Regions from separate parts of the Homo sapiens genome. Here region 1 is linked to region 2. Evidence: fine-mapped expression QTL. A gene starts in region 2. The other region holds a variant in brackets. All regions are shown on one strand. Distances are between the middles of the regions.

Region 1 (11,128 bases), 61 kb before region 2:
ACCTCAATTCGACCCCCTATGATTTCATCTTCAACCCGACCAGTGAGCACTCTCCACTCTCCGAGCCCATACCACCAAATTATCCTTAAGAACTCTGATCCCCAAATGCTCAGGGAGATTGATTTGAGTAACAATAAGACTCCAGTCTCCCGCACAGCCGGCTCTACATGAATTACTCTCTCTCTCTTTTTTTTTTTTTATTTTTGAGACGGAGTCTCACTCTGTCACCCAGGCTGGAGTGCAGCGATTCAGTCTCGGATCACTGCAACCTCTGCCTCTTGGGTTCAAGCAATTATCTGCCTCAGCCTCCCAAGTAGCTGGGATTACAGGTGCCCGCCACCACACCCAGCTACCTTTTTTGTATTTTCAGTAGAGACGGGGTTTCACCACCTTGGCCAGGCTGGTCTTGAATTCCTGACCTCGTGATCCACCTTCCTCGGCCTCCCAAAGTGCTGGGATTATAGGCATGAGCCACCACACCCGGCCTGAATTACTCTTTCTCTATTGCAATTCCCCTGTCCTGAGAAATCAACTCTGTCTAGGCACCCAGCAAGGTGAACCCATTGGGTGGTTACGGTAATACCCTGGAACTCCAGGACTCTACTTGAGGAGATGTAAGGACAGCAAAACTCCATCCACTTCCATGCTCTTAGGGTCTCAGCTGGGCACAAAGGCTAAATTGATGTAAGATCGATTAACAGGAGAAAAGCATACAACTTTATTTCATATAAGTTTTACATGGCACGGGAGCCCTGCTAAGGAAATGAAGACGCCCAAAGAAGCAGCTAGAGTCAGTTACTTATTAATATATACTGGATTGGACCAAGAGTAGTAAGTTGTGAAGAAGCAACTAAATTATGTAGAGAGGCTTAAAAGATAAGAGTTATTTGAACAAGGTCTGTGCAGAATACTCCTGGTCTCTACTTCTCAACCTCAAAGATAAGGATGTTGTGTCTTTCACACTCGAATTTCATCTGCTTTTTTTTTTTTTTTTTTTGAGACGGAGTTTCGCTCTTGTTGCCCAGGCTAGAGTGCAATGGCGCGATCACAGCTCACTGCAACCTCCACTTCCTGGGTTCAAGCAATTCTTCTGCCTCAGCCTCCCAAGTAGCTGGGGTTACACGCGTGCACCACCACGACTGGCTAATTTTGTATTTTTAGTAGAGATGAGGTTTCACCATGTTGGTCAGGCTGGTCTGGAACTCCCGACCTGAGATGATCCACCCGCCTTGGCCTCCCAAAGTGCTGGGATTACAGGTGTGAGCCACCATGCCCGGCCCATCTCCTGCTTTTAAGAAACAGCACAGAGGTCGGAGTGACCTTGCACCCACTGTTTTCCATATACCTTTAACTTAAAAGTCAATATGCCAGAATGGCATGTTTTGGATGGCATATTCTTAATTCTTTCAGAGATCAGGGGTCCATAGTCATCACCATCATAATCATCATCATGTGCATGTAGGGTGCACTAATACATGCTGGGCAGATACCACGCCCTTTCCATTCCATATTCACTCTCACAGCCACCTCCTGAGGTATTATTGTCTCCATTTCACAGATGACAAAACTGAGACTCAGAAATACTATAAAGCTTTCTCAGGGTCACTGAGTCCCACCAACTCCATCAACCCATCAGAATTCTCTCCTTCCCTCTCTTTAGTTATGACCACGTGTTGTAACTGTATTGCAGCCTTTCTTCAAGTGAAATGGCCTCTAGGAGTCTATTTCCAAGATTCACACTTGATAGGGCATTTTATAGGAAAAGAGAATGGCCAGACAGTCATTGTTAGACTAGACACAGAATAAAAGAATGGCTGGTTAGGCCAGACATGGTGGCTGACGCCTGTAATCCCAGCACTTTGGGAGGCTGAGGGGGGCTGATTGCCTGAGGTCAGGAGTTTGAACCCAGCCTGGCCAACACGGTGAAACCCCTGTTTCTACTAAAAATACAAAAATTACCAGGCGTGGTGGCACACGCCTGTAGTCCCAGCTACTTGGGAGGCTGAGGCAGAAGAATCACTTGAACCCGGGAGGTGGAGGTTGCAGTGAGCCGAGATTGCCCCACTGCACTCCAGCCTGGGTGACAGAGCAAGACTCCATCTTAAAAAAAAAAAAAAAAAAAAAAATATATATATATATATATATATATATATATATATGGTTAAAGGTCAACTGGGCTGTTGTCTGAAAGTCTGCAGGGGGTCAGGGAGCAGGGTAGGTGTGACTTGTTTCCCAGAACAAGCCTTAATCCCATCAAAGTCCATCAGAAAACAGCTTGGGCATTTTATCAGGAGCACTGAGTTTCTCCCCAGAAGGAAGTTGTGAATTACATCACATCCAAAAAAGGGTCTGTCCCAGACCAGGCCTGGGGCAATTTTTCTTTTCAGTGCTATCATGGTGAACATGACATTCTATTGATGACTAGACTATTCCAATTCAATTATATAATCATAACACATGGTCATGGTGTCACAGCAATCACTTGAGAACAGAATAAGCCCAAATCATCTATATGTCTGGCTTATAACAGATATGTAATGAATGTTTTATTCTGTGAATGAGTGAACTTCCCTAAACGGAGAAGGAATGAGTGAATTAGATCATCACTGTTCAAAGTGCAACCTGCCATCCAGGGCAGGTCTGTAAACTGTTACTGGACCATGGCAAGGTGAGAAAGAAAATAAACTTTTTATCTGAGGAATATGAGCCCTTTTAAGTGATCAGGCCCAGAGAGGCATTAAAATGAGACAGCAGTCATGGCTCACTCCACCCCCTACCTGTAGGAAATCAGTCAGGGTGGTAGGAAAAATTATAGGGAAAGACACAAACCTTCTTAGAAGGCAGGGAGGTTTTGCAAAAGCTTCAGGAGAGGATTATGGCTGAAGGCAGCCAAATTCTCTTGTCCGGGGGCTGAGAACAAAAGGCAGATAACAGGGGAATGTAAAGGAACTTATCTAGATAAATCTGTTTACTTATGTCTCCAGAAACCAACCTTTGCTCATTCGTGTGCAGGACTGCTCTCTACTTGGGGGGGTCGACAATGTTAATCACCCCAAATTGTGTTTGCTCCAAGCCTTTGTCGTTAAATCTGTACTAAATAAATGCGAGTGTCTCTGGCTTATGGGAGCTGCTGCTGCTGCACTCTTGCTGGTGGTGCTAAGCGGCAGTCCCCTAGCCACGCTGTCAGGTAAAACACCTGTGTCAGCGTACTTCCTTCATCCATCTCTCAGCCAGAGTCTGGCAGCAACTACCACCTTGAGCTAAGTATTTATTTTGAAGCCTCCTGCTATATAGACTCTAGACTGAATGTCTCCACCAAGTACCCATAAATTTACCTAACATATGCCATATGCTAGACAACATTATTCACACACTATAGTTCAACAACATATAGTCAATTACTAATCAATGTTATCCCTGTAACCCTGCAAAAATTCCTGAAAAAACAACTTTTGCAATTGCCCTCTCTCCTGATTGATCCTTTTTTCCTTAAAAACCTCTCCTTTATTCTCAGGAGAACTTCTCAGTGTTTCCTCGGTTGCAGTCCTTAGCCTTGGCCCAAATGGACTCTATATTAATTTTGCCTCAATTTCCTCCTTTAGGTTGACAAAGGTAAGCACAGAAATCGAGAGAATGACATATGGAAAAAGTTTTATAGCAACTGGACAATGTATGTTGAGTCTAAATAATGCAGGAGTTCGGCCAGCACGGTGGCTCATGCCTGTAATCTCAGCACTTTGGGAGGCTCAGGCAGGGGGATCACCTGAGGTCAAGAGTTCCAGACCAGTCTGGCCAACACGGTGAAACCCTGTCTCTCCTAAAAATACAAAAATTAGCCAGGCATGGTGGCAGGTGCCTGTAGTCCCAGCTACTTGGGAGGCTGAGGCAGGAGAATCGCTTGAACCCGAGAGGCGGAGGTTGCAGTGCGTCCAGATTGCACCATCGCACTCCAGCCTGGGTGACAAGGGTGAAACTCCTTCTCAAATAATTATAATAATAAAGGAGTTAAGAAGAAACTGCTTAGGCAGTTAGTGAGGGTATGGGAGTCCTCGGTAAGGTTTTCCTTTTTGTTATTTATTTTATTTTATTTTATTTTATTTGAGACGGAGTCTCCCTCTGTCCCCCAGGCTGGAGTGCAGTGGCGCGATCTCGGCTCACTGCAAGCTCTGCCTCCCGGGTTCACGTCATTCTCCTGCCTCAGCCTCCCGAGTAGCTGAGACTACAGGCGCCTGCCACCACGTCTGGCTAATTTTTTGTATGTTTTTAGTAGAGACAGGGTTTCACCGTATTAGCCAGGAAGGTCTCGATCTCCTGATCTCGTGATCCACCTGCCTCGGCCTCCCAAAGTGCTGGGATTACAGGCGTGAGCCACAGCGCCAGGATTACAGGCGTGAGCCACAGCGCCTGGCAAGGTTTTCCTTTTTAATGAAAAGTAGCCCCAAAATCATTTTCTAACACAGAACAGCCTGTAAAATCGAGCTGCAAACATAGACAAGCAAGTGGAAAGCTTGCACAGGTGAATGCCAGCAGGAAAAAAGCTACCTGGGACTAGGCATGTTCAAAATGGCGGCTCCATCTTCCCTTCTCTTTGCCAGCCATGTGTATAGTAAGGAGCAGACAATATGGCGCAAGTCAAGTGGAAAGCCCATTTAATGGCATGGTAAGATTAGGGTGGGGTGGCCAGCCTTCACCGAGCACTATGTAAACGTCACACCTGATCAAACCAATCTGTGGGCCCTATGTAAATCAGACACCGCCTCCTCCAGCCTGCCTATAAAATCCGGTGCACTCCGCCACTGGCTTGTCTTTCCTTATGGAAGGCACTCTCTCTCACTAGAGAAAGAGCTATTCTCCTTTCTCTTTATTTTGCCTATTAAACCTCCACTCCTAAATTCCTTGTGTGTGTGCATGTCCTGAATCTTCTTGGCGCAAGATGATGAACCCTGGGTATTTACCCAAGACGATGCCGCGTCATAATAATAATAAAAAAATAGATTTACATTTTAATATGTTCTTGGTTTTTGTTTTTTCTTTTTTTTTCCTACGAATTCTTTGTCCTTCCCCCTCACCCCCCCGACTTGGAATTCACTGTGCTTTTAAACAGTATACAGCTGTAGTGATTGGGTTTTGTTTGTTTGTTTTATTTTAAGATTCTTCACCACAGCAGTTAATCAGATGATAATAGACCCGCTGGGAAGGGCAGACTTCAGCATATGAGAGGTTCCATTCCCTTTTTTTTTTTTTTTTTTTTTTTTTGAGATGGAGTCTCTCTGTCACCAGGCTGGAGTGCAGTGGCTCGATCTCAGCTCACTGCAGCCTGCCCCTCCTGGGTTCAAGCAATTCTTCTGCCTCAGCCTCCCGAGTAGCTGGGATTACAAATGTGTGCCAACACGCCCAGCTAATGTTTTTGTATTTTTGGTAGAGATGGGGATTCACCATGTTGGCCAGGATGGTCTTGATCTCTTGAACCCCTTGATCTGCCTGCCTCGGCCTCCCAAAGTGCTGTGATTACAGGCGTGAGCCACTGTGCCCAGCTGAGAGGTTCCATTCCTAAGAAAATGCCCTGGCAGAGAAAGGAACCCTGAGTCCCCTCTACACAAACTTTTAGCCAGTCAAACCTAACAACAGCCCCACCTCAGCTGACCAGTCTTTTTCTGGAGGAGAGGGAAGTTAGAGGTGTCCATTCAGGGTTCCCCATCTGAAGCTTCTTAGAGCCGTGCTGCAGCTTGAAGCCTCAGCACGTGTTCTCCCTACCCCACCCCCAAGCTTCAGAAAGAACCAGGGAGAATCAGAGACCTTAGCATCGAAGCAGAGCGAAATCCGAGGCTC[G/T]GTGTTGTGGCAGGATGGGGGTTTTCTTCCCCCCTTCCCCACTCCTTTCCTTCCTCCCCTCGGCCCCCTCCCCTTTCTTCCTGGGGGGAAGTCTGTTAAAATGGAGGAAAGTGACTAGGCGAGCCTAAAACACACAGCAGTTTCTTCTGACTGGTGTCAAGAGTATCAAGAGGGAGGCGTGTTGGTTTCCTAGCTGTTCTACTCTGGGTCATCCGCAAGGCTTGAGCCTCCTCCGGGGACAAAGGGAATCTGATACAGCACCTTCACCATGGAGGCCAACCTTGCAGGAAAGGCAGAGAAGGACGGCAGAAAAAGATGGAGGCCGGGGTGGGGATGCGAAGGAGCAGCAAAGACAGAGAGAGGAGAGCCGGCCGATGGTCGCCACACTCTGGAAGGAACGTGCAGGTGACTTGAAAGGAAGTTAAAGAAATCTCTGTGGCCAGGCGCGGTGGCTCATGCCTGTAATCCCAGCACTTTGGGAGGCCGAAGCAGGCAGAACACCTGAGGTTACGAGTTGGAGACCAGCCTGGCCAACATGGTAAAACCCTGTCTCTACCAAAAATACAAAAATTAGCTGGGCATGGTGGCAGACACCTGTAATCCCAGCTACTCAGGAGGCTAAGGTGGGAGGATTGCTTGAACCCGGGAGGCGGAGGTTGCAGTGAGCCAAGATCACACCACTGCATTCCAGCCTGGGCAACAGAGTAAGACTCAGAAAAAAAAAACAAAACTCTCTGGACTTTACATCTGTCATACTAAGATTTTTCTTTCCAGGATTGGGATGTTCCCTATAAGCCCTCCCAGTTTATGTAACCAAGGAGTTAGAATGTGCAACCCAATAGGTGGGCCCATTATTGGAAGGGTGGTAGTCAGGAGGCCAGGCTGGGGGCCAGGTTGCCGGGACTGAATCCTGACTCTACCACATGCCAGTGTCTTACCTTGAGTAAGTTTCCTCATCTGTAAAGGGTGGATGAAAATTCTACTTTTATCTTGGGTGCTTACAATAAGTAAATAAATTAATATATGTAAAGTACATAGTGCTGGATATATCTGAGGTTATTACTATGAGTCTAAGCAAGGCTATTTATATATGTGTATGTATATATCTATTTGTGTGTGTGTATATATATATATGCATGTGTGCATGCACACATACACACACACACACACCCCTTAGAAGCCCATGGATACAATTAACAAACATGGTTACAGGTTCCTTGGAAAAATCTAGGCTAACACACTGCCATTACACAGTGTAGGAGTATGTATATTCGTTAACATACTGATACTGAAAGCTGTTCACAATATAATAAATGAAAAAAGTAGATTGCAAATCAGATTGCACCATACGAACCTATTTTTGTAAAAATACACACATATGTGGATAAGAAAAAGTCTGGAATGGTAGAGACAAAAAAAGATGTAACAGTAGCTATTGAAGTGTTTTTTATTATCATTTTGTTTCATTGCTTCTAATCTTTTCACCAATGAATGTGCAATATCTGTGGGTTTTCTTAGGATAGACATAGAAAGACATCAATATAAAGAATCTCTTTCCGTTATGATTTCTTTCACTTGTGCCAACCAGGCTAGATTGCAGATTTTCCTGAGGAGCATTTGGGGAAAGGGGTGGGAGAGTATCTCTGGGGTGCCCCTGAACACACAAAGCCCCAGCCTGAGTTGTTCAGGACACACAGCTCTAGCAGTTGAGCTTATTGCTAATAAGCCAGGCAGTGCCTCTGGCTGGCTGGCGTGTCCTGTGTCTTCCTGTTCTCTACTCACTGGTTTCATGTGCTAGCCTTTGTCTCTGACATTTTCTTTCTTTTTTTTTTTCTTGAGATGGAGTCTCTCTCTGTCACCCAGGATGGAGTGCAGTGGTATGATCTTGGCTCGCTGCAACCTCTCCCTCCTGGGTTCAAGTGATTCTCCTCCCTCAGCCTCCCAAGTAGCTGGGACTACAGGTGCCTGCCACCACGCCCAGCTAACTTTTGTATTTTTAGTAGAGACGGGGTTTCACTATGTTGGCCAGGCTGGTCTGGAAATCCTGACCTCAGGTGATCTGCTCGCTTCAGCCTCCCAAAACGCTGGGATTACAGGCATGAGCCACCACACCCAGCAGCCTTTAAACTTCCATCACAGAAACCTGAAACGAATAGGCAGAGTCCAAAGCTCCATGTTAGAGGCTGGAAGTTCTGAGGCCTGCAGGAACAAGTGAGAGCCCTTGGGAGCCAAAGCCTGGCCCTCAAGTCCCGACTTGCCCAAAGCCATCTGTGTGTCTTGGGCAAAGAGGAGAGTCAGTTTCTTCATCTGTAAGATGATAGGATTGGGCTAAATCCTCCCTGAGGTCCCCTTCAACTCCAAAAAATGGGAGTCCAGTAAATAACAGAGAAGCCGGGGAAAATGTTCTGCCATGTTGATTTAGGTTTGAGCTCAATGAAAGGATCTACACTAACAAGAGATTAAAAAAAAATTGTATGGGTTTGCATGCAGTATCCAGAGAAGTAAGGTAAATACAGTTTGAGGCCTGGATTTATGGATTATTTCCTTCTTTCTGACTTTTCCATTTGTTAAACAGAGATAGCATCAATATCTGTTTACTCAATGAATGCCTAGCAGACAACCACACAGTAAGTGGGTTCAGTTAAAAAAATATGCTCTGACAATAAGGGTGAAAATAGTGACAGCCAAGGCTTGGATGGAAGACCTCACTTCTGGTCAGTGAGTGCATGTGTGTGGCCTGGATGAGCCATGTCACCCTCCTGGACCTCATCTCTTACACTAACACCTCACAGGGTCATCCAGAGCATCAGATGAAAGCATCATCGAATGGAAAAAAGGGAGTTTGGAGCAAGAGATCTAAGTACAAATCCTGATTCTGCCAAGCATTAGTTACATGGTCACAGATGAGTCATTTAGCATTCCTGAACCTTAGCTTCCTTGCCTGCAAAATGAGTCAAGTAATAATAACCCACAGCATTGCTGTGATGTCATAGGAGACAGTGTACACAAAGTACTTTATAACCTCTAGAGTGCTGACCAAATGCTGGCAATTGTTATAATAAGACAAGGAAAAGCACTTTGGAAAATTTTAAAGTACTAAATGAATTAATGTGTGGAGTTGATGACTGTGAGGATTGATTCACTTAAGAAATGTGGTTCAGCATTACTATGGGCACAGCACTGTTTGATGCTAGAGCAATCAAAGTTGGGTGAGAGAGGTACCCCCGGGCTGCAGACAGAAGCGATGAAGAGGAGGAAGAGAAAGGGGAGAGGGAGGAGATGTATTTGAGAAGTACACATGTGCAGTGATTTACCTAGGGCTGTCTGAAAACTTTTTAAAAAAATATCTTCAGTCCAACACCTCAGTAAGTCAATTCCCCAAGACAACAGATCTACGATGCAACAACTGCCCTTGGGTTAGCTCTGGTGACTCACTTGTAAATTGCACCCATATCTGTTTCAATTAGTGTAAAAGTTCTACAGACAGACTGTGCCGCCTTATTATGTTCTATTTAAACAAGGCTACAAAGGACGTTCAACTGCATCAATAGTTGGGCTCCAGCAAGCTGCAGCCTCGCTGCTTCTCAACCCTGTGCTGCCACAAGCACACATGCTCAGCCTGCAGATTCTTGGAATCTCTCCTCAGGGCCCTGCAGGCGAGGTCTTCACTCTGAGTCCTATGTAGGCCCTGAGTTCTAGTCATTTCCTTCCTTTTGTGCAGAATCCATTAGAAACCGCTTGCCTGTGTAACCCCCCAGCACCACCCTGGTTCTATGAATCATGCCAATTTTCTGTTCTGCTCTATTTGATAATCCATCCCCTCAAACTGCCCCAATTCAGTCATTCCCAGCAGGCAGACAGATGGATTAGAATCCCCAATGAAGGCAGTCACTGCTGGAGGGTGCTGTGCAATATTGAACACTCATCATGGTAAAAAGCATGTGTGTCCCTCGCAGGGCAATAGGGAAAAACCTAAGCCTGCTTTCTTTTACAAAGAGGTTGTTTGTGTTAAAACCAGATCACTGATGTGGTCTGTCAACATCATTCGGGCCTCTGCTCTATCAGGCCTCCCTATCCTACCAAAATGCTAAATATCCTCTCTCCCTTTTCCTAATTTATTTTCTTAATAGCACCGAACATCCATCTACATTGTTCATTGTTCTTTTTTTTTTTTTTGAGACAGAGTCTCTTTCTGTCGCCCAGGCTGGAGTGCAGTTGCATGATCTCGGCTCACTGAAACCTCCGCTTCCTGGATTCAAGCGATTCTCGTGCCTCAGCTTCCCAAGTGGCTGGGACTACAAGCGCCCACCACCATGCCTGGCTAATTTTTTGTATTTTAGTAGAGACAGGGTTTCACTGTGTTAGCCAGGATGGTCTCGATCTCCTGACCTCATGATCCACCCGCCTCGGCCTCCCAAAGTGCTGGGATTACAGGCGTGAGCCACTGCACCCAGCTACATTGATCTTATCTGTTTATTTTATAACTACTGTTCACACCCCTATCCCTAATTAAATCCTTAAACTCTATGAAAGCGGGAACTTTGGCTATTGCACAGCTTGACACTAAGGCCAAGGTGCAATGATAGAAACACAAGTAAATAATTAGGAAACAACACGGCAAGTCCAGCTATGGAGAGATGCTCTGTGAGTCACTGAGTCCTCCACTTTCTCTGAATAAACCCCGTAAAGAACCTAAAGAACTCAGTACATTCTGAGTAAATAAACAAGTGAATGGAGATGTCTTCACATACGATAAGGGACTGAGCCTCTGTTGATCCCTTCTGTGAGATATTGAAAGTTACCTATTTGTGCTAAGAAACAATACTAGAAAGAATTCAAGTACAGCAAACATGGGTTGAAAAGCAAGTGTATGAAAAGCGAACAAGTAAAAACCCCAGGTTCCTCTCTTCTTAGGAAGTTTACAGAAAAGAGCAGCAAAGAGTAGGACGAGTGAGGTGGTCTGGGTCTACCACCAATTTGTGGGCTTAGGCAGGTCAGGCAATGGTCTCAATACCTGTGTCTTCATCCATAAACAGTAGAATCCTGCCAGCTCTGAGGTGTATAACAGTAGAATGACATAGCTGCCATTTATTGTACTAGACATAGTGTAGCCTTTACCCACATTAGCTCCTTTAATGCTCACTATGTTATTTTCTCCATTTTACAGATGAGGAAACTGACACACAAAGAGGTTAGTTAACTTACACAAGGCTGTAGAGCCTAGTGAGTGGCAGAGCTGAGATTCAAGTTCAGACAGTTTTGCTTTAGAACCCAAACTTTAAATTTTTTTAATTAATTA
Region 2 (11,128 bases):
TGTGGCATAAGTCTAATTGTTATTACTATTTTGAGTGCTGAGTTCTGTATATAAAATACTACATTTCATCAAAAAATATACTTTCTTTTCTTCTTTAACATAATGTTATCATACAGTAAGGTCCAGAGTGTTTTCTGTCCGTAGCACTCCCATATTCTACCACGGGTTTAATAACCACCGCTCGATGGCCTGAAATAGAATGTTTATGGGTCCCAGACTCTCCCCATGACCATCTTTCTCTGTGCTCATAGTTCCCCTAGTCACAGCTACTTTTAATTGGTTCAAGTGCTGGACAAAATTGTTTAACTGTGGAAGAGGATTTTGTGCCACAAACTATATTCCTTTAAGGAATATCGTAAGTACAGCTTCCTGGTTTTTGCTGTTTGTTTCTATAACAAATAAATAACTTGTCCCTCTGGGCTTTCTCTGTTTTCATTCCCCTTTTACATTATAAGTCCTTCAATTCTGAGCCTTTAAGTAGCGGCTTCACCTTCAACACACACACACACACTCTCTCTCTCTCACACACACACACACACACACACTCACAGATATACCTTCCCTGGACAAAACCAAACTGTTGCATTTATTCCACTAGTGTTTCTCAAAGTGTAATCTGCAGGCAATTCACATCAGAGTCTTCATAGGGTGGGAGGATTTGTTAAAAATGCATATTCCTGCCAACCTCTAGACCAACCGTATCAGAATGCATGGAGATGGAACCTGGATGCTAAATTAGTTAACTCTTCCCGCACTCATCCAGGTGATTCTTAAACACACTAAAACTTGAGAACTGGCCGGGCGCGGTGGCTCACGCCTGTAATCCCAGCACTTTGGGAGGCCGAGGCGGGCGGATCACGAGGTCAGGAGATCGAGACCATCCTGGCTAACACGGTGAAACTCCGTCTCAACTAAAAATACAAAATAATTAGCGGGGCCTGGTGGCGGGCACCTGTATTCCCAGCTACTCCGGAGGCTGAGGCAGGAGAATGGCGTGAACCCGGGAAGCGGAGCTTGCAGTGAGCCAAGATCATGCCACTGCACTCCAGCCTGGGCAACAGAGCGAGACTCCATCTCAAAAAATAAAAAATTTAAAAAAAACTAAAAATAAATAAATAAATAAAACTTGAGAACCATTGCTCTACAAAAATCATTTCCTTTCTGGTGTCAGCCCCTATTTTTTTCAGGTCAAAATGGAGTTAATTTCTTATCCATGTTGTTCACCTCTGAGATCAGCGTCTCCTTGTCTCTTCCTAAGAAACCTTCTCTCGCCTGTCTCTCTGGCCTTTGATGGTAGTTTTTCTCTGGGCTATTTCTCAGTCCTTGCAGTCTACTTTTAGCAAGTCCTCAGGACACAGTTACTTACTTCTTCCTCCTCCTTAAGCTGCTCTAAAGAAACCCCTTTAGCATCCACAGCTCACACTGCCTAGCTCCAAACTCCCTTTACAATACCCTGCCCAGGGATTCACAGTAACATCTACCGGTTAAAGGTAAAGCCCCATGTGGTTCACAAAACTCATAGCCTTCCTCCTAAATGTTAAAACTACTCAAGATCACTTATTAACAGGTGTTCTCCAAATTTCTTAAATGAACACACACCACGACTACAATAAACAAAATAAAAACAAATTCTACTATTTCACCATTCTAACATACCAAATGCTGTCATTCATTTTTTTACGGCTCACATTTAATTCTTATTCACAACAAAATCAGAATGTAATTAAAATTTTTAATTCTGATTTTCTAACCTAACATCATATCAAACATATTTTCATAACCATCATAACTATGATTTTTAATGACTTTAAAAGAACCCATGGGCTGTGCGCAGTGACGTGCCTGTAATCCTAGCACTTTGGGAGGCCAAGGCAGGAGGATCACTTGATCCCAGGAGATGGAGACCAGGCTGGGCAACAAAGTGAGACCCCGTCTCTACAAAAAAAAAGTTAGCCAAGTGTGGTGGCACACGCCTGTGGTCCCAGCTACTTGGGAGGCTAAGGCAGGAGGATCAAATGAGCACAGGAGGTCAAGGCTGAGTGAGCTGTGATTACACACTGCACTCCAGCCTGGGTGACAAAACAAGACCCTGTCTTAAAAAAAAAAAAAAAAAAAAAAAAACTCATGGAGTTAATGTTGCCAGAACTCCTATTGCTTAGTGTTCAGGGTATTTTCAGATTTTGCTGCTATAAATGATAATACAGTGAATATGTTCATGCATATTACTTTTCTTTGAATTATTTATTCGGAATAAATTTCCAGGGGTGGAATGAATGGATCAAAGTGTATGAACACTTTAATGGCTCTTGATACATATCGTCAAATTGCCATATTTGTATTTTACACAGTTCCTCAGTAGCATGCTAGTAAACGTTTAACAACATGCTTGCCCCCCGCCCCGAAAAAAAAAAGGTGGGGAGCCTGATTTATTGTGTTTGCTGATTTTCACAGTGTACTTTTACCATAGCCAATTTCAAGCCACCATCATGACATCGCTGAATGCAAAATTGAAAACAGATGCTCAGATAGCACAATATTATATAGCATTTCCATCACACAGATAAAGAGAAGTCAATAATGTCACTGGCTTGGAAAATTTCTGAAAATATTACAATCAGCACTTGAGAGCAAGCCGGTTCTAGAACACCACTGTAAACATCTCCCTTGATATTTTGCAACAGCACATCTTTTTTTTTTTTTCATTGAAATCATTGAAAATTCACCCTGTTCCCATCTGTGTGACAATGAGCATGCTTTTAGGTCCATAGATGATGCAAATAATGAATAAAACCTAATGCAAAAAAAAAGGGGGGGATAGAGTGAACATCTAACACCTGTCCGGGTTGAATAATTCTGTCTACCCACCCTCAAACATTCATTTTACCGTGCTTTTTTCCATGAGGTCATGTATACAAATGATTCAATCATTTATTTACTTAACGAGGCACTGAATGGATGACTATACGTAGTTCTCAGGCAAATGTGATGAGAACCGTATCTTCTGTTTCTTAACCACTCTCTTCCTTGGGTTTCTTTTCTACGAAATGGGGAAGAGGTCACTGTGACTTCAGTTTTACGAGAAACTGAGTGCAGAGATAAGAAAGGTTCAACTTGTGCTCTAAGAAGCACTTGAACATTCAGTAATGCTCTGGAAATTTCTTCCAAAAGCAATTCATTAGTATTCTATTTTACCAGAAAAGAATGTGATTTGGTGCTTTCGCTTGAAAGCAACATCCCCTCTTTGGGCTGCCCCGGAATAATATATAGCTTCTACATGTATACAACACTTTGGTTTTTAAATGAGCGGCACCGTACGTTTGCGTGTTAAAATGCGGGTATGACTGAGCTAAACATCCTCATATCCTGGACCCAGTCACCCCGCTCCCGATAACTCATCTCAAGGAATGAACTCAAAACAAAGGAAAATACTTGCTGTGTGAAGATATTAATCACAATAGAGAGTAGATCAATTTGCCTCATTTCAGCACTTATTCAACTTACGGTTTCTGGGGCCCTGGTAGGAGAGTTCTGGATTCTTGGTTCCTAAATCCCCACCTGCAAAACGACCACTTTCCAAGTTGTTTTGGGGCTTGTATTTTTTAATCACACAGATTCCTGGACCTCACGTGAGGGCTGGGGTATGAGACATGGAATTTCAGTTTCTTAAAAGCTCCCCAGGTGGTTTTGCTGTCCAGCCAGCTTTAGAAACCACTATTCCACAGTGAGACACCAGACACATGATCGTGGTCTCTGAACAACTGTCCACATCCGGGGAACAGTATGACAACTTCTTGTGCAAGTCGTCAAAAGGTTGTTCAGGGCATTCAAGCAGTTGCTAGAGTCAAATGGCTAAAGAGCTCACAGAGGAGCCCTAAGTTTCTGGCACCCTTCCACCCCCCTGGGGTCATCCTTTCCATCTCTGACACCCTCCTTGCTCTCACAGCCCACCCCAGCCCCCACACTGTCATGCTGCCTCCCAGCCTCCACCTGTGCACCCCATCCTGACTTGTGCCCATCCCTTTTCATACACAAAGCTCCAGAGTCTCCTCCCTTAGGACACCAGTGGGACTCTAGAAGGAACACTATCACCGTGTGACTCACGTCATCTGCACACATAATTAGGAATCCCCTGCACAATTAACATGCCAGGTGGATTTGCATTTTTTTAAAGGAGGCTTTTAATCCAAAAAAATATTTATAACCTAGAGAGTGGAATGGGGAAGGAGGATGCTTTTTAATCCTGGCTTTCACCCAGATCCAAGCATCCCAAACCCAAATAAGCACTCACTGCCACAATGATCCCCACTCCTAAGTAGAAATGGAATTTTAGCTGTGCCTTGCTAGCACTAAAATTAACACATTGTAAGATAAAATAATTTAATTTAAACTGGGCAAGGAAGAAAGGTCATGCTCTCTGCCTCTAATGAAAAGCACCTCTAGAATTCCACCCCAAGCGTTCAGAGAGCGACGTCAACCAAGGAGGCCCACAAGTAATGCAGCGGATACTGAGAGGACCTCTCTCATCTCATAAGCTAGAGAAACTGTTACCAAATGGCTTAAAATAGCGGTTTCCAAGTTTGTTTTCCTTCTTTCATATGTATTCTCACTAGAAAAACACCCAACCCCTGTGCCTTGTCCATATTTGGTGCTCAAAAAACGTTAATTCCCAGCCTCCACCTGTCACCCTACTTTCCCTGGAAAGGAATGTTGGGATTAGGAGAGTTAGCTTTGCAGGCTTCTTGCTCTTAAGCCAGGGCTCATAACACCTTCATTTGTGGCAATAGCCAAGTCCTTAATAAGAATCATAAGAGTTGCATCTATTGAGAGATTTTTTTTTCAGTCAGGCACTAGGCTACATGCTTTACATATTTTTATCTCATTTGATCTCTACGACAACCCTCTGAGGTAGGTATTTTCAGTTATTATTACTGTTATTAGAGATATTTTGTGAATTTTTTTTTTAATCTGAGCATTGAAGAAGTTAAGTAACTTGTCTGAGGTTCCCACAGCCCAGAAATGATAGAATGATAGAATGGGGATTCCATGCAAAGTGATCTGGCTCAAAAGTTGGGTTCTTATTCACCGTGCTGTATGTTTGTTATTATATGGGTTCAGATATTTTATGGTCCAGAAAAAAAGTGTCTGAATTATTATGATCTACTGACTCTCTAAACAACGTCCAGAAAAAGAACAGAAGCATACCCGTGCCATCTCATTTAGACATGCAAAGAAAGTAGCACATATTTCATGGAATTTGGGGACTGGCTTTTGAGGAATAGAGACTTGCTTATCATTCATCAACCAACTCGTTCTCCCAAGAGGAAGGCCACTTTAATTCCTGGATAATTGAAGGGCCTCCTTAAAATGAAGAAACCAGAGGTGGAGGTCTTACTGGTACCCCGAGCCACACGAACCTTTCTCTGCATAAATGATGTCCTAAGGGAAGACAGTAGAGGGCAAATGGAGGCCCACAGCCAGGCACAGGGATGCAGAAAGCAGCCCCAAGTGGGAAGAGGCCACGCTCGACAAGCTCCCTCTCACATGGAATTCTGCTGGTGCCGTGAGAGCCGAGGAAGCGCAGCCGCAGGGCAGAAGGAGACCAAGGACTATTGAATGGGGTCACTTCTCCCCAGTGCCTGCAAGGTCCTCGCTTTTGTGTCCACACCCTAACTGTCTAATCTGATTTCCTGCAATGTGTAAAACAAACTGTCTTCTCTTCTCCAGTGTCTCTTCAACTGGCCTTATCATCTCCAGGTCAGTCTCGCCTTTGTGCCTTTGCCCACAAGGTCCTCCCAGTCTGAAATCACCTGCCCCTTCTCCTTCTACCGACACTTCGCATTCTTCCAAAGCCCAGATCTTCCTGACAACTCCAGTTTGCCCCCAGGCCCCCTCCATGGAATTCACAGAACTCTTCAAGCCTGTGCTGCCCCACTCATCACTGAATTCTCATCTTGCATTGCTTCCTAAATTTTACTTCTTATCACAACTACCAGATTATAGGGTCCTTCAAAGTAGAGATTTTTAAAATATTTCTCTTATATCCTCCACGGCACCAGCTTAGAACCAATAAGGGGACACCAACTACTTGTTGCCTGCTTGAATACGTCAATGGCAACTTTCATTTAGTAAAGCACCTAAAACCGGTGATTTCCCAAACTTTGTTTAGTTACAACTCAGGCTACTGACTGGTACCTCGTAGCATATCTCCAAATCAAACCACCTCAGAAGAAAGATTAAATTTAATTAAAAAATACATGTTATACATCATAGAGCACTTTTGGGAAATGGTCATTAACATTGGCAATAGGTGAAAAACACAAGCTAGAAATTCCAGATTGAAATCTACATCATTTAGACTTCGGTTCTGTTTCTTTTCTGAACTAGACAACTTTAAAATTCATATTTGCACAACTTAGAGCATCTTTAGATTTACTTCATCAAACCTTGGGTAGTATTTAAACTACCCATACAGTTGAGCTCAGCCACAGTCACAAGCATATGCATTCTCTAGAATATCTGGAAAACCAAAAAGCCAACTATTGTAACTTTTCATGTTTCAAAAATCTTGTTAGGACTGTGGTGAGGGGCAGTGAATATCAAAGCAACACTCACCCCCCCGACCCCCGTCCCCCTGTAAATTGATTCTACACCTTACAGCAGGTAGCTCAGAGTCATTACGATGTTTGGCCTAGAGTAAAAGCTAAATAAAATTAGAAAAATTTCTTTTGACACCAAAGAAATACTTTTAAGGAAGCAAAATCCTTACCTGTTGCAGAATGCCGAAGAAATGTCTTGACAGTAAAATGACTGACTCCGGAAATCAAATTTGTTCAACAAAAGCAGGTGAAAACAAAAGCGGCCCAAGCCTTTTCACTGTGGTTGATTTCCTCATAGGATCAACCTCTCCCTCGTTCCCGAGAATATTAACTGATTCACACTGGAAGAACTGAAAATACAACAGTTGGGCTGGCAGGGAGTCCACCCCAAGATGGTTGGGTTAGTGTGTGTGGGGCAGCAGGAGCAATCCGAATGTGACAAAAGAGATTAGCAAGTTCCTGTGCCTAAGTCAATTTCCTGTAGCCGGCTTCTCCGCAGAGGGGGTTTCATTTGTGTGGGTTTAGGGGGGTGTGTGTGCACGTGCGTTTCTCTCCATTAGAATATGAAACTTCCCCAGATCAGAGGCAGAATAAGGCCTTTGCCGCACCGCTGGGTTTGCGTTTAATTTATCCCCCACCCTACTCCGAGACTATGTTTCTCTCCCCCTTAGCCCCATTTTCCTCCAGCAAAGCCCTACGTAAAACTGAAGAAAGGAAGACTGAAGAGTCCAAATGATTCCTCATGGAAGTAAAATTACCAAAAAAAAAAAAAAAAAAAGTCCATGCCACTGACCAATCTTGGTTAATTTGAGCTTAGGAAACAACACCTTAGAACTTTCCCCCCATCAGCTTGGGGAAAACAAGAGGTGGATTGTCTGCTTCGCTTTGCTGCATTAAAAACTATCAAATATTTTGCAAAGAACAGAGGCAGGCTTAGTGAGAGTTCGAGCAGCCCCCTGCCGTGCGTTCACCCCTGTATGGACGAGCACCTGGGCTGGGAGTTACCTGGCGATGAGTTGTTTTTTCAGACTCCTCAGAGTTTCATTATTTGCCTAAAAACACAAGTTTACTTGTTTTGTCCTAATGGGCAATCCAGGTGTAGAGACCATCTGCAACTACTTAGGTTATGGCTAAACGCCTAACCCAACAAATTGAACTTTTGTGATGTGGTCACAACCGCCTGTGCCCCAAATCCCTGAATAACTAACTGTTGATGCTACTGCTCACGGTGATAGCTTGGTCAAAATACCTGCCGACCGTAAGGATAAAGTCAACTCCATGCCTTTTATTTTATTTTATCAGTGCATCGGCCCCACACTCAAAGATTTGAGTTTAATTGAGCTGGGTTGGGACCGGACATCAATATTATTTTAAACCCCTCTGATTATTCTAAAGTACTGCTGCCACTCTAATGGATGAGAAGGAGGAAAGAACATTCCACGTAGAGGCAAATAGTATGTGCAAAGGCCCTGAGGTGGGAAAGAGGTTGGCATGTTCAAAGAAGTGAAAGCAGATGACTGTGCTTGCAGCATAGTTGTAGAGGGAATCAATGGTACAAGGTGAGCATTCTTATCAATAGACACCCAATTACCAAGTTCACAAGACTTCCACATGAACCCATGTGTCAATTTGTTAATGCACAGTAAGAACTCAATCTGCCAGCTGAGATCCTCGAGCCTTCTGAAGAGCACATTATCTCCTAGAAAATCCTCTGTGGGAGGCCAGGTGCAGTGGCGGTGGCTCACACCTGTAATGCCAGCACTTTAGGAGGCTGAGCGGGGAGCATTGCTTGAACCTAGGAGTTCGGGACCAGCCTGGGCAACGTAGTGAGATCCCATCTCTACAAAAATTAGCTGGGCAACCACACCTGTAGTCCCAGCTACTCAGGAGTCCGAGGCAGGAGGATTGCTTGAACCCATGAGGTTGAGGTTGCAGTGAGCTGTGATCCACCACCACACTCCAGCCTGGGGACACAGCAAGACCCTGTCTCGAAAAAAGAGAGAGAGGGACAGACAGAAGGAGGGAAGGGAAGGAAAAGGAAGAGAAGGGGAGGGAAGGAAGGAAGGAAGGAAGGAAGGAAGGAAGGAAGGAAGGAAGGAAGGAAGGAAGGAAGGAAAAGAAAGAAAGGAAAGAAAGGGAAAATCCTCTGTGGAAAGCCAGATCACCATGGTGATGTTATCAGCTGAGCAGAACATAAGCTTGTGGATATTTTCTTTATCTACTTCTGGTTTTGTTCATCAAAGGATTTAGAGCATCTGGCAAAAATACTTACACCTTAGCAAAATGAAACAATTAAAAACAAGAAATTTGAAAATGAGGCCAAGAGAAGTGAAGACAAAAATGACACTAAAACTGGGGGTGAGGTTAATTACAGAGAATGTATGCCACGTGGTTCTATGCTCTTCAGCAACTGGTATGAAGCAGGAAATATCACCACACAGAAAGCTCATTGCCCGCGGGAGAAACATAAACACATAGCTCAGAATCATGAGGTCTTCCTGGCTCCCCAGTGCTGAGATTAAAGAGAAACTTTGCCCCCTGGATTCCCATAGAGAAGACAACACGGCTGAAGTGAAACACCATGTTTAGACTCCACGCAGCCAGCCACAAGTCCGTGAGGTGGTTCCTTACGCTGTTCCTCCATATATGCTGATTGCATCTCACCGAAGAGTTTACTAAAAGCAACTCCAGGGTGTGCGGCAGGGAGAGTGCAGCAGGAGATTAGTAAGAATGTGCCACCCCACAGCACCACTTTGATGTTCCAGTTTTATCCAGAGATGAAAAATGACTTCATGGGCCGGGCGCAGTGGCTCACGCCTATAATCCCCACACTTTGGGAGGCCGAGGCAGGCGAATTGTTTGAGCCCAGGAGTCCAAGACCAGCCTGAGCAACATAGCGACACCCAGTCTCTAAAATAATACTAATAATAACAATGACAATAGGCCGAGTGCTGTGGCTCACGCCTATAATCCCAAAACTTTGGGAGGCCGAGGAGGGCAGATCGCTTGAGGTCAGGAGTTCGAGACCAGCCTGGCCAACATGGTGAAACCCCGTCTCTTCTAAAAATACAAAAATTAGCCAGGCACGGTAGCTCATGCCTGTAATCCCAGCTACTCGAGAGGCTGAGGCAGGATAATTGCTTGAACCCAGTAGGCAGAGGTTGTAGTGAGGCAAGATCATACCACTGCACTCCAGCCTGGGCAACAGAGTGAGACGTCAGCCTAAAAAATAATAATAATAATAATAATAAAGAAAAATGACTTCAGATATGCTTCAGAAAATTCAGGATAAAAAGTTTCTCTCATCCAAGTTTCTAAAAGATTTAAAGAGGCAAAGAGTTCAAAATTGGTTGCCCCTCCAACAGGAGATCCAGTGTCCTTTAAGGGGGACAATGTCTCCCCTTCAGAAAGCAGAGGAGTCAGACAAGGACAGCTGCCTGTATGGACAGATCCCCTCCATCTCCTAAGTAGAAGGGGAGATGAGGCTCTGCCCTTTGGGAAACAAAGCAAGAAACGCCACCAGCATGATTTATAACGAGCTCCAGGCCTCAGGCCTTGTACCATTTTCTGCACGAAAGTGGAGACGTACTCCAGAGTCAGGATGGACTGGGTGTGTCCCACCCCATCCTGGAAAGGACTAGGAAGGGCATTGTCATACCTGGCTGCGAGACCCCTGTCCCTTTCACCCCCTGGCTGACCACCCTTCTGCTTCTGAAGAACTGGTTTTCTGTGCCTGGAATTGCCAGTTTTAGATGATCTGGTACAGTCCAGCGTTGGGCTTCCTCCTGCTCCTGACCTACACGCCTCTAATCTTCACACAGTTTAATCTCAGAGAGGATTTTCTTAGGGGGAGGGGACAGGGGGTTGCCATCTAATTTTCTTCCTTCCTTGAAAATGTCTTTTTGGTGTTTCTCTCTTTCTCTCTCCCCACTCCCCTCCTCCCCCACCCCGCCCCTCCTCTCCTCTCTCTCTCTCTCTCTCTCTCTCTCTCGCTCTCATTCTTTTAACAGACTTTTAACCGACAGGGGTAGTGGTGAGGGGAGGAAGCAAACGCTGAAAATACATGCAAACATTCACAGACATACACGCACCCAAGCCCCAGGGCGTGTCCCTTCTGACGCTGTGCAGTCTGTCCTTGGGATGGGGTTGGGAGAAATCCTGGGGACTTCAGAGTGGCAGGAGGAGGGAAACCATGGGTCCACAGTTCGTAACTGGGAATCAGAGCCCCCCTCTGAGCCATCTTCCAGGAAGCCATCTGTAGCCACCACCCACCTCCATTGCAAGCCCAGTGAGGTGCCCTCCCAAGGGCTCCATAGCACGTCGTGTTAACACGGCCAGAGCACTCACCAAATGGCCCTGCAGTGTTCACTTCAGAGGTCCCAGGGCTCAGGGTCCAGCCTTGCCCACTCAGAAATCCAAGGTACTGAACAACCACTTTCTGACCAATAAATAGATTGATTCTCCCATCTCACAGCCTCACAGCTGCCCTTTATGGTAAACACTTTAAACCCTATTTTAACAGCCAAGGAAAC

What was found.
Region 1: its variant is fine-mapped to the expression of RHOH in whole blood (TOPMed, PIP above 0.99).

What each region holds. Positions count from the first base shown.
Region 1 is chr4:40,253,461-40,264,588 of GRCh38, reverse strand. No RefSeq gene overlaps it. Among named protein-coding and RNA genes, the nearest start is that of LINC02265, 48 kb to the left of the region's middle. RefSeq lists an enhancer at 5,779-6,557. The variant G/T (reference allele first, on the strand shown) is at 5,830.
Region 2 is chr4:40,192,939-40,204,066 of GRCh38, reverse strand. It overlaps RHOH (ras homolog family member H), which reads right to left and starts at 7,036. Exons shown (of 3, transcript NM_004310.5): 1 at 6,767-7,036. RefSeq lists enhancers at 5,964-6,063, 9,241-9,290, 9,331-9,540, 10,030-10,169, 10,690-11,049.